Homo sapiens: one gene and its partners. The protein of the gene in region 3 purifies or fractionates together with the protein of the main gene of each other region. This does not show direct contact. Each region holds a gene or a part of one and is shown on either strand. Other genes may lie near its edges. The genes, in order: GRSF1, SNTB2 and RPS6KA3.

Region 1 (3,652 bases), on a different chromosome or scaffold from region 3:
TGTCTCAAAAAACCAAAAAACCTTTGAACCACTTCTATCAGTAGATCCTGAAACACTGGCTTTGGAATGGCTGTTTTGTTTACTTCAAAGGAGCTGATTTAAAAGGCCAGAAAACAGTAAAAAAAAAAATTAACGAAACAGTGATTTAACATTTGACATTTTAAACTGTACCTCCAAAGTTAAAGTTAAAACACAAATGAACCCACTTATCATCATGTGCATCCTGAGGTGATGTCAACATGAGATACTGTACAAGACAACTGATCTAATTTCTTCAAAAGTCAATTGCTTTTAAAAAGGGGGGAAGAATAAGTAAGGGGGATTTGCTCTAGTTCAAGAGAATCAGTGGTCAGGTGCAGTGGCTCACACCTGTAATCCTAGCGTTTTGGGAAGCCAAAGCGGGCGATCACTTGAGCCCATGAGTTTGAGGCCAGCCAGGGCAACACAGCAAGACCCCACCTACAAACACACACGCACGCACGCACACACACATACACACAGCCAGGTGTGGCGGCACATGCCTATTGTTCTAGCTAGTTGGGAGGATGAGGCGAGACGATTGCTTGAGCCCAGGAATTCAAGGCTGTAGTGAGCTATCATCATGCCACTGCACTCCAGCCTGGGTGACAGAATAAGACCCTGTGTCTTAAAAAAAAAAAAAAAACACACACACACACAGAGAATTATGGACATAACAATCAAATGCAGTGTGTAGACCTTATCTGGATTCTGTATTTTTGTCCGGTGTGCTGGCTCACACCTGTAATCCCAGCACTTTTGGAGGCCGAGGTGGGTGAATGACTTGAGTCCGGGAGTTCTAGACCAGCCTGGCCAACATGGTAAAACCTTGTCTCTACTAAAAATACAAAACTTAGCTGGGCATGGTGGCGCATGCCTCTAGTTCCAGCTACTCAGGAGGCTGAGGCAGGAGGATCACATGAAACTGGGAGGCAGAGAGAGGATGCAGTGAGCCAAGATCACACCACCGCACTCCAGCCTAGGCGGCAGAGTGAAACTCCGTTGCCAAAAAAAAAAAGGCTATTTTTGGTATAATTGGGAAAATGCTATTATGAACTGTTATTAGATAATATACTATTGCTAACAGTGTTAGATATAACATTGAAATTATGTAAAAAAATTTTTTTAAAAGATGCATACTAAAAAAAACCCAGATGAAGCAAATATAACAGATGTTACATTTTATATATAAATGTGTTAATCTAGCTGCTCTAGGTACTCTGTCTATGGGTTAGTCCCTGCCCCACAAGGAGCAGTCAAGCCGGATGCGGTGGCTCACGCCTGTAATCCCAGCACTTTGGGAGGCCGAGGCGGGCGGATCACAAGGTCGAGAGATCGAGACCACCCTGGCCAACATGGTGAAACCCCGTCTCTACTAAAAATACAAAAAAAGCCGGGCATGGTGGCAGGCGCCTGTAATCCCAGCTACTTGGGAGGCTGAGGCAGGAGAATCGCTTAAACCAGGGAGGCAGAGGTTGCAGTGAGCCAAGATCGTGCCATTGCACTCTAGCCTAGGCAAAAAGAGTGAAACTCTGTCTCAAAAAAAAAAAAAAGGAGCAGTCGAAAAAAAATTGTTAATCTAAATTATGGGCATTTGATGGCTCACTACACTACTCTCTCTACTTTTCTATGTTTGGATAACTTTTCAGTCATATTACAGCACATTCATCAAAATGACTTAATGTGTAACACTTCTGCATCATTAGTATCTGCTTTACTCACCGATTACCAATTTCTTCCCTGTGTTTCAACAGGGCTTGGTTGGCCATTTCTGGTTCTTCAAATTGCACATAGGCTTCCCCTGTTTTTCGCCTCCCTCTATAGTCCATCACAAAAGTAATGTCAACTATATTCAGTCCTAGGACACCAAGAGATTTTAATGCTACTAGCAGGCTTTTTTATCCTTAGAATTAACACCATCATTCACATACTAATAAAATTTTTATTCTGTTTTGCCAGTCCCAAAACTGAATACATGCTTGACAGGAAGAAAATTATTATGCAGTCAAAAGTCAGTCAACACCTACATACTTGTATTTCCAGAATAGGTAAGGTCCAAGAAGCCCACCCAAAACATACAATTCTCCCCACCAGTTTTTTTTTTTTTTTTTGCTGTTAATTATATACTAGGAAACAATAGAAATCACAGACTTCACTGCTAATGGTTCTAGGAATTAGAAAATACTTTTAAATTATATAAATTGTTATTGTCTTACACAAATACAGCAACTATTATGAGAAGTTATTTCCTTCAATAGTAAAACCCTCATGAAATTATTCTGAAATCTGACTTCCCTCCTAAAATCTGCCTGATAGAACAAAAACACATATAAAATCTATAAATATTAGAAATTTAAGTGAAGAGCTCTCCCCTAAAGAACCTAATATAACTGCATGCCTTTGCCCAGAAACAGGCTCATCTAAGATATAGAAGGAGATACCAAGGGAAAAAAGATATGAGCTCCCAAGCATAATACAACTGCAAAGTACCTGCAAAGAAGTCTACAATGTCTTTCTCATTGCAACTATAAGGAAGTCCTCTCAAACGAACCACACCATCATTTACCACAGGCGAAGATTTGACCTGCAAGCTCTTCATTAAGGCATCCACATCTTCATTGTTTATCTCATATACTACGAAGAAAAAACCCAACAGGGATGAAAAATTTACATAACAAAGGAACAAACCCATTAAAAAAAATCATTACAACTTGCTGGGTTATCTGAGAATTCAATAACTATTTTAATCTTTATGCGCTTCTCTAGAGAAAATAACAAATGACATTTATTGCATATTTACCATGCGGGCATAACTTCTTTATTTCTCACAGCTTGTAAGATACTTCATTGGCCAGGCACACTGGCTCACGCCTATAATCCCAGAACTTTGGGAGGCCAAGGCGGGTGGATTACCTGAGGTCAGGAGTTTGAGACCAGCCTGACCAATATGGTAAAACCCCATCTCTAATAAAAATACAAAAATTAGCTGGGTATCATGGCATGTGCCTGTAGTCCCAGCTACTTGGGAGGCTGAGACAGGAGAATTGCTTGAACCCAGGAGGCAGAGGTTGCAGTGAGCTGAAATCGCACCACTGCACTCCAGCCTGGGTGACAGAGTGAGATTCCATCCCCCCCACAAAAAAAAGAAACTTTATCTCTTTATGTTTTATTTTCACATCCTATAAAAGAATGCATTCATACAATCTAAATACTTCATTATTAAGGATCAAATAAAAACTACCTTGAAAAGTATAAAACCTAATGCAATGATCCCAAAAAGCCATAATCTGACTTCACATACCTTCCACATACCGCTGGCCCATGTACATGCGGTGCTTCTCTAAGGCTTTCTGCACATCCTGCTCTGACTCCATTTCAATTAAGGCATCACCCCTTCGTTTCCCATCTCTGTTTAGGAGAAAATGTATTCCATTCTCACCGTTGCGGATTCTGCAGTCTAAAAGTGTATGAGCAAAATCAATTGAAAACAGAAATCAAACTTTTAGCTCAATTATGTAAGTCACAAGAATGCAGTTTTCCAACAACAAAGCAGGAAACAAGTGTCATATTCCTTACACAAATCCCCATCACTGAAGTCATCCAAACACCAATAAGGATTTAGTCTCTAAAACCT
Region 2 (3,752 bases), on a different chromosome or scaffold from region 3:
AAATAGTACTAAATTCAATATTCTGGATGTAAGAATTTATAACCAAATGCTTAGCTAGACCAACTTCAAGGTACACGTTTAGAGTAACAGTTTTTTTTGGACACACACCCAAACCACAATCTATAATTTTACTCCTTCTATTAACACTAATTTCCGAGCAATGTCTAGCCCCACCTAGACATGCAATATAAATAAGGTTTATAAATAGGATATTATAAAGGTGGGACACTGGAACTTCACAACTGGTGTACATGAAATCATTTCTGGTAAATCAGTATTTTTCCAAATATTCACAAGCTGATTTATAAGAAAGTGAAAATCCATTGTGCCAAGTTGGACTTCTGGCCTCTCGGTTTGACGATTGGTCCTTCTTCACCAGCAGCCCCCAGCCCTTCCCTTCTGTCCTTCCTCTGCCAGGAATACCCTCCTGACTCATCCCTGCCTGCCTATGTCCATCACTTCTTGGAGACCTGGCTCAAGATTCAGCTTCGGGAAAAAGTCCTCCCTGGCTAATTCCATCTCCACTAACTATTTTCTAACTTTGCATTCCTTTGGCATTTAAGTATAGTTTCACGACGTAATCACCAACTTCATTCCTTTCCTCCCTATAAGTTGTTTTGCATTTTTCTATCATTTCTCCAACTAGAGACCAAGTAGGGACAGCATCTTCTTTTATATTCTTTTCAACACAGCTAGCCATAATCACCAGTGAAAGAAAGCTGACCGCTCAAAAATTTCTGAAGAAAGCAGCTGACTTTTCGTTTATAATTTACAATACTCTATCACCTCCAACATGCATGAGTCCTTAGAGGAGAGGAATTTTATTTTTGCCTTAGTTCAAATTCATCATGAAAGATCCAACTTACAGATCACATACATATAACTTAACGTAAAGAATAATCCTGGTTATTGAAACCTATCTTGTGATTTGCCATTTCAAGTTTCTTACAAAAACCCCAAGAGTCTTGAAGCAGCGCGCCTGTGAGTGGTAGGAAGCTGGCAGCAGACTTGCAAAAGGGGCAAAACTCTAGTTGGCAGTAAATGTTCAAACACGTGAGCCTCCACTGTTAAACAAGGTTCGTTAACCACACAGACTTGCTGTTTCAGCTTTCTGGCTTCAATGAAATGCTATGATCTCCTTTGGTTATTGTTGAGAGCCAATGATGGGTTAAATTCCCATAAATTAACCAGCGCTTTGGTGGTTTGCCCGAGCATACCGCTGGCATCGGTGAAGATGGACTTTTTTTTTTTTTTAATAGACCCGCCCGCCCCGAGGAGCCAGAGGTGAGTGAGTTAAGCGCCAACCCGGCACTTCTCAGCGGGCAAACGGAGACAGACCCACTCGAGCCGTTCGCTCTCCCTCAAGTTCTTAGTGTCAGCTTATCGGGCCGAGGTGGGGCTTCATAGGCAGCTGCTTTTTACTCAATCTCAGCCGAGTCTTCCCTAGGGGCTGCAAGCCACACTTCGGCGGCTGCCCAACTTTTCCTGCAAGAAGCATCCGTTTTTCCACACTGAAAGCTCCAGAAACCCGGGTTTGGAGAGAGACGGGGAGAGAACCGGCTCGCCCCGCCGGCGGGGCAGGAACAAAGTGAGCTCCCGCGAGCCCAGGCCGCCGCGGCCTGCCCACCCTCCCGCCCGGCCCCGCTCACCCTCCAGCAGCACCTCCTTGCCCGCGCGCTTCAGCGCCTGCACGGCCTGGTCGTGGGTGGCCTGGCGCAGGTCGGTGCCGTTCACCGACAGGATGGCGTCGCCCAGCCGCAGCGCCCGGCTCTGGTCGGCAGCCAGCCCGGGGAAGATCTTGGAGATGAGGATCGGCATCCGGTTCTCGCGGCCGCCCTTGATGCTGATGCCCAGGCCGCCCGCCTCTTGCTTCACCACCCGCACCCGGCGCACGGGCGGCGACGCGCCCGCCTCACCCGCGGGGCCCCGAGGCGGCGCCGGCGGGCTCGGGGGCCCCAGGCCGCGGCTTGGGCTCCCGGGCAGCGAGTCGCCCGCGCCGCCGCCGTTTGGGAGGCCGTTGAAGGCGGCGGCCGCGGGTCCCAGAGCGGGCTCCAGCTCGGCCGCGGCGGCGTCGCCCGTCAGGCTCAGGCTCTCCCCGCTCAGCTCGGCCACCACTCGGACCCAGCGCTCCCTCAGGAGCAGCTCCACCAGCCCCGCTTTGGTGGCCCGCGTCCACACCGCCATGGCCGGCCCCGCTCCAGCCGCCGCAGTCGCCGCAGCTACCCTCATTCCAGTCAGGCAGCCTCGGCGCTTCCCTCTTCCCGCCCGGAGGGGCGGGCCCGGCCCCTCCCCCGCACGATTCATTATTCATGAGGCCACGCCTGCCTCTGGAGGGGCGGGGCCGGCGCAGCCGCTTCCGGGAGGTGCAGAAGTTGTCCGATCACTCGCCTCTCGCCGGACGTGGGCAACCCGAATGCGGTGGGACTGCATTTCTCCTCATCCTTCCATTGGCTCCCCACGGACCCCCCAGAAACTCCTGACCTCTACCGTGCAATTCACGGGAGCTGCCCGGGCACGGAAAGCAAAATCAGCTTGGAGAAACACTTCTCAAGCCTGCAAGACCCGGTGGCACGTTCATTCTTGCATTGATTGGTTCGTACCCTGTGTACTGAGCGCTTAGCCCTGTACTCCGGCTCCTTTTGAGGCCCTGTACTTAAGCTCAATAGTACCAACAACAGCTGAGAGTTTGCGGTCTAGTGGGGAAGGAAAATGCAGAACCAACCAACTAGGTGTGATACTATGTGGTTAAGTGACATGCAGAAGACGTCCCCAGAACAGCATAAAAGGAACATTTGGTTAGGCCTGGGGTCAGCTTCACAGAGGTAACAACGGACGGTGAACAGCTCAAGCAAAGGTCCAACAGCATGATCCAAGCCTTTGTCAATGTTTTGTAATCTCGTTTACTTGCCTGTAATTCAAGAGGGAACCATGTCTTCTTAAACCCTGAAGCCACAATTGGCAGGCCTCAAGGATATTTGCAGAATGATGGTGTCTTAGGGTTCTTCAGAGAAACCAACCAATAGGATATATAGAGATATATAAATTTATTATTATTACAAGGGACTGGCCACGAGATTATGGATGCTGAGAAGTCCCACGATCTGCCATCTGCAAACTGCAGGCCCAGGAAAGTTGGTGGTGCACTTCCAATCCAAGCCCAAAGGCCTGAGACCCAGAATCAGTGGTATAAACCTGAGATTGAAAGTCTGGGCCGGGCGCGGTGGCTCAAGCCTTTAATCCCAGCACTTTGAGAGGCTGAGGTGGGCGGATCACCTGAGGTCACGAGTTTGAGACAAGCCTGACCAACATGGAGAAACCCCATCTCTACTAAAAATACAAAAAATTAGCCGGGCGTGGTGGCACATGCCTGTAATCCCAGCTACTTGGGAGGCTGAGGCAGGAGAATTGCTTGAACCTGGGAGGCAGAGATTGCGGTGAGCTGAGATGGCACCATTGCACTCCAGCCTGGGCAACAAGAGCAAAACTCTGCCTCAAAAAAAAAAAAAAAAAAAGAAAGAAAGAAAGAAAGAAAAAGAAAGTCTGGGCCGGGTGCAGTGGCTTACACCTGTAATCCCAGCACTTTGGGAGGCCAAGGCGGTGGATCACCTGGGGTCAAGAGTTATAGACCAGTCTGGCCAACATGGTGAAACCCCGTCTCTACTAAAAATACAAAAAATTAGCCAGGTGTGGTGGCAGGCGCCTGCAATCCCAGCTACTCAGGAGGCTGAGGCAGGAGAATCGCTTGAATCCGG
Region 3 (3,652 bases):
TCACTATTATACCGTTTCCTCCCCCAGTAGGTTCCTATCAGATAATTGTATTTTACCAGAGTAACATAGTTTTTTTTAGAGTCATTTACTTGAGTGAATACATCAAAATATTTCTCTCCAGGTTAAAAGATTTCAGGATTGGTCTGTGTAGGAGTTTACATTTATGGTCTCATCCCTAGTACACTGTGAATTCTTGAAAGCAGACATTTTTCCCCCCCTCTCTGAATCCTCAGCATTCAGCACAATGCCTGGCCCTGACATATTGTGGACTTAATAAATATCTGCTGAATGAATCATGAAAGTCAGGAATAGGATGATTATGAATCTTATCTGTTTTTTATCATTTTAATCTCATTAAAATATGAACAATTTAAAAAGACCTCAGTGCCTCAGTAAAAACACAGGCAGTTTCTTCAGTTCCTTTACACTGGCCTTCCTGCTTTAAGACCTCACACGAATCTCATGGTGTTCAAAACAAAAAAACCCTTGTGGTTAAACTCAAACGTGGGTCAGAACATGATAGGCTAGAACTAGGCCAAATGTTTAAAGAAGCAAATTTAGGATAATAAAGGAAGTACTATGTAAGCAAAGTAAGGGTTGGTACAAGATAAAAAACAAACTAGCTTCCTAACTGGTCTAGGTGAACTCTTTAGTGAGTTACTTAAAGATGCTAATATGCTTTTGAATATTTGACTGTTTAGAGGATGGATAGGTAGGAATTATGGCTCTTCTGTTGTACAAATTCTTTGCCAGTGCTGTCAGAGACAGCATTTAGTGGATCATAAGCCTGACCTAGAGTGATACTTTTTTCTCCACTGCAATAGAGTAGGTATAAATGATAGTAAATCTAAATATGAAGTTTTCAAAATGATAAAATTATGGAGGTTATTTTTGTTTTATAGAAATGTGTTATATAAAATAGCCACAATATAATGTGTTGTATACAATGTGTATTAAACAATGTGTTGTATGAAAATAGCTACCTCGACTTCCTTTAAATAACAGGTACCCATGATGCACTGAAAAATATTTAAAAAATCAACTATATAAGTATTTTATTATAGAAAATGAGGCCTTTGTGTGGGAGATCATGTTTAGTGAATGTGCAGCCATTTTTAACCTCAAAGATTATGTAGTATTCTATAGTATAGTACATAGATTTTATAGTATTTCTACTATATCAATATTATATAGGTTTCTTATTTTATCTATAGGGAAAATGCTCTATTAAAGTATAATCATTGATTTTGAAAAAAAATGTTTTATTGTTTCTTTTCCTTTTCCTGTTTTATTTTTACCACCTTTCAGGTTTTTTTCTTTCCCCTAAGTGAAGATCTGAGGAGAGGACAGGTATTGTTACATGTCAACTGTCAAGTAACTGTGACCCATTACTGAACACTTCATTGTTTTCAGTGATTATGATAGAGGATGTCAGTTTTGTAAAATCTAGAAAACTTTGCTTTATTTTGGCAGCTTGATCCTGTAGTAATGGGGTAGATTCAAAATGTGAAACTTGCTGGATGCATTTAAATTTTATTAATAAAACTTTTATCTAATTGCAGGAGCAAATATAGGCAGACTTTGTCTTCTCTTTAGTATACATTTCTGGAAACCACAATAAGTATATCTTATTTTTAATAAGACAGGTGGCATAATTGGACTGTGTACTCCTGACCAAGGACTTGACATTTGCTAAATTATAGAATGACCAAAAATACAGATCACTTATCTAGAAGTCTGAGTTGCAGAACAATTGTCCTAAAGTTTTTAAAAATTTTTATTACTAAGAAATTCATACCATTGTGATAATTAACAAGATTTGCTCTACAGTTCAATGCTCAGGGACATGTGATCTGCCAGGCTGTGAATGATGGGTAAGGTCACACTTGCCTGGTTGACCCAGTGCAGAATGGGTGCTTTAGACCCAACGGTTCAGATTATAATGAATGACACACTGACATGGTGGTGGTCTCACTGGTAATGCCTGCGTGTGATAGTGCTCAGTTGTTTATGTGCTTTGGTGGATAACACATTTTAAAGCATTGAAATGCAGCTGTGCAAGTACATATATTATACATCCCGTTCCCCAATTCACATAAATAGAAAAAAACAAGTATCTAAATTGTAATACCTAGCATTCAATGTCTTCCTTCCACCCCACTCCCATCAGTGTGTTCTTTTGGAATTAATACAGTGACCTGTATCATTAACCTGGAGATATCAGATCTCAGATATTCTAGTTTATCAGTTAAACACCAAAAAGCATTAAAACAAAGAAAAACTACCCTATTTAATCGTTCAGTAAAAACTACCATATTTAATCATTAAGTTTTGTCATGATTTAGCAAAACAAACGCAAATGTGTGTGTGTCTGTGTGTGTATGTGTTTTATAAAACAGGTTCAGGATAAAATGTATCCATATAGCACATTATGATTATTTTAATACATTTGGCCTATTTATTTTTTGACAGTTTATCAAGTTGTACAATTTAAAAGCCAATATTTATTAATCCCTAATGTACAGAAACATAGGAGGAAGTTGTCTCTTTGGTTAAACAAACTGTTGAAAGATAAACTTTGGCACACCAAAATGTTTACTTTTCAATTGATAAATAATATTTGTACATTTTTATGGGGTCATGTGATATTTTGTTCCATGCATAGAATGTGTAATGATCACATCAGGGTATTTGGGATATCCATTAATCATTTCTGTGTGTTGGGAACATTTCAAATCCTCTCTTTTAACTATTCTGAAATATATAAAACATTGTTATTAACTATAGTCACCCTACTCTACTCTGCTATCCATTGTTAGAACTTATTCCTTCTATCCAATTGTATGTACTGTGCCCATTAACCAACCTTTCTTCACCCCCACCCCCTCTGTAACCCCCACACTCGTCCTATCCTCTAGTAACTCTCATTCTGAGTAGAAACTCCCTACCTATGAGTCCCACGTGTGAGTAAGAACATGCAGTATTTGTCTTTTTGTCATGTGACCTATTTTAAGCAAATACATTAGTTACTAGTAATTAAGTAATTTGGTTTTTGCTCATTCTTAAAACTTAGAAGGGACTTTGTGGGGTTATTTGGATTAATAGCAAAGTGTTAAAGAACATAAGCTCTGGAGCCATAAAGACCTGTGTTTGAGTCCTGGCTCTGCCACTTAATAACTTTGTAACCCTATGCAAGTTATATTTAATATCTCTATACTTCAACATCCTAATTTGTAAAATAGGGATGAAAATAATGTCTACCTCATAGAGTTTTGGTGAGAATTAAATGAAATGATAATATATGTAAAGTACTTGGTTCAGTACATGGTTTAAGTTTTTAATAAACAATAGTTACAATGAATCATCCCTCTTAAAGAACTGTCTCAGTTCTTTGTTTTTCCTCTGGGGTAATTTTTTAGAATCCAGCAAAGCAATTAAAAGTGATTTATTTGATTGATCAGTTTAAATAGTCATGGTAATATCTGAACGTAATTGAAAGGGCAAGGGGAACAGAAATCTCTTTAATCTTACCCTTTTTGCATTGATCCCTTCCTCAGTATTGTCTTTAAAGGGAAAAAACAACATTGTGAAGAATATATGTGGAAGAAGGAAGAAAGGAAAGTTTGTTCACATTTTTAACATTGCTCAAATT

The links.
Region 1: the proteins of RPS6KA3 (region 3) and GRSF1 purify together in Homo sapiens (affinity purification with mass spectrometry; 2 studies listed by BioGRID and IntAct, with this or other methods). This does not show direct contact.
Region 2: the proteins of RPS6KA3 (region 3) and SNTB2 purify together in Homo sapiens (affinity purification with mass spectrometry, with the first as the bait; one large-scale study listed by BioGRID). This does not show direct contact.

Annotation. Positions count from the first base shown.
Region 1 is NC_000004.12:70,829,799-70,833,450, forward strand, and holds part of GRSF1 (G-rich sequence factor 1), read right to left. Parts: intron 3,476-3,652; coding exon 3,320-3,475; intron 2,653-3,319; coding exon 2,509-2,652; intron 1,877-2,508; coding exon 1,741-1,876; intron 1-1,740. UniProt on the Homo sapiens protein: Regulator of post-transcriptional mitochondrial gene expression, required for assembly of the mitochondrial ribosome and for recruitment of mRNA and lncRNA. Binds RNAs containing the 14 base G-rich element.
Region 2 is NC_000016.10:69,185,644-69,189,395, reverse strand, and holds the start of SNTB2 (beta-2-syntrophin), read right to left. Parts: upstream 2,233-3,752; 5' UTR 2,230-2,232; coding exon 1,650-2,229; intron 1-1,649. UniProt on the Homo sapiens protein: Adapter protein that binds to and probably organizes the subcellular localization of a variety of membrane proteins. May link various receptors to the actin cytoskeleton and the dystrophin glycoprotein complex.
Region 3 is NC_000023.11:20,260,390-20,264,041, reverse strand, and holds part of RPS6KA3 (ribosomal protein S6 kinase alpha-3), read left to right. Parts: intron 1-3,652. UniProt on the Homo sapiens protein: Serine/threonine-protein kinase that acts downstream of ERK (MAPK1/ERK2 and MAPK3/ERK1) signaling and mediates mitogenic and stress-induced activation of the transcription factors CREB1, ETV1/ER81 and NR4A1/NUR77, regulates translation through RPS6 and EIF4B phosphorylation, and mediates cellular proliferation, survival, and differentiation by modulating mTOR signaling and repressing pro-apoptotic function of BAD and DAPK1.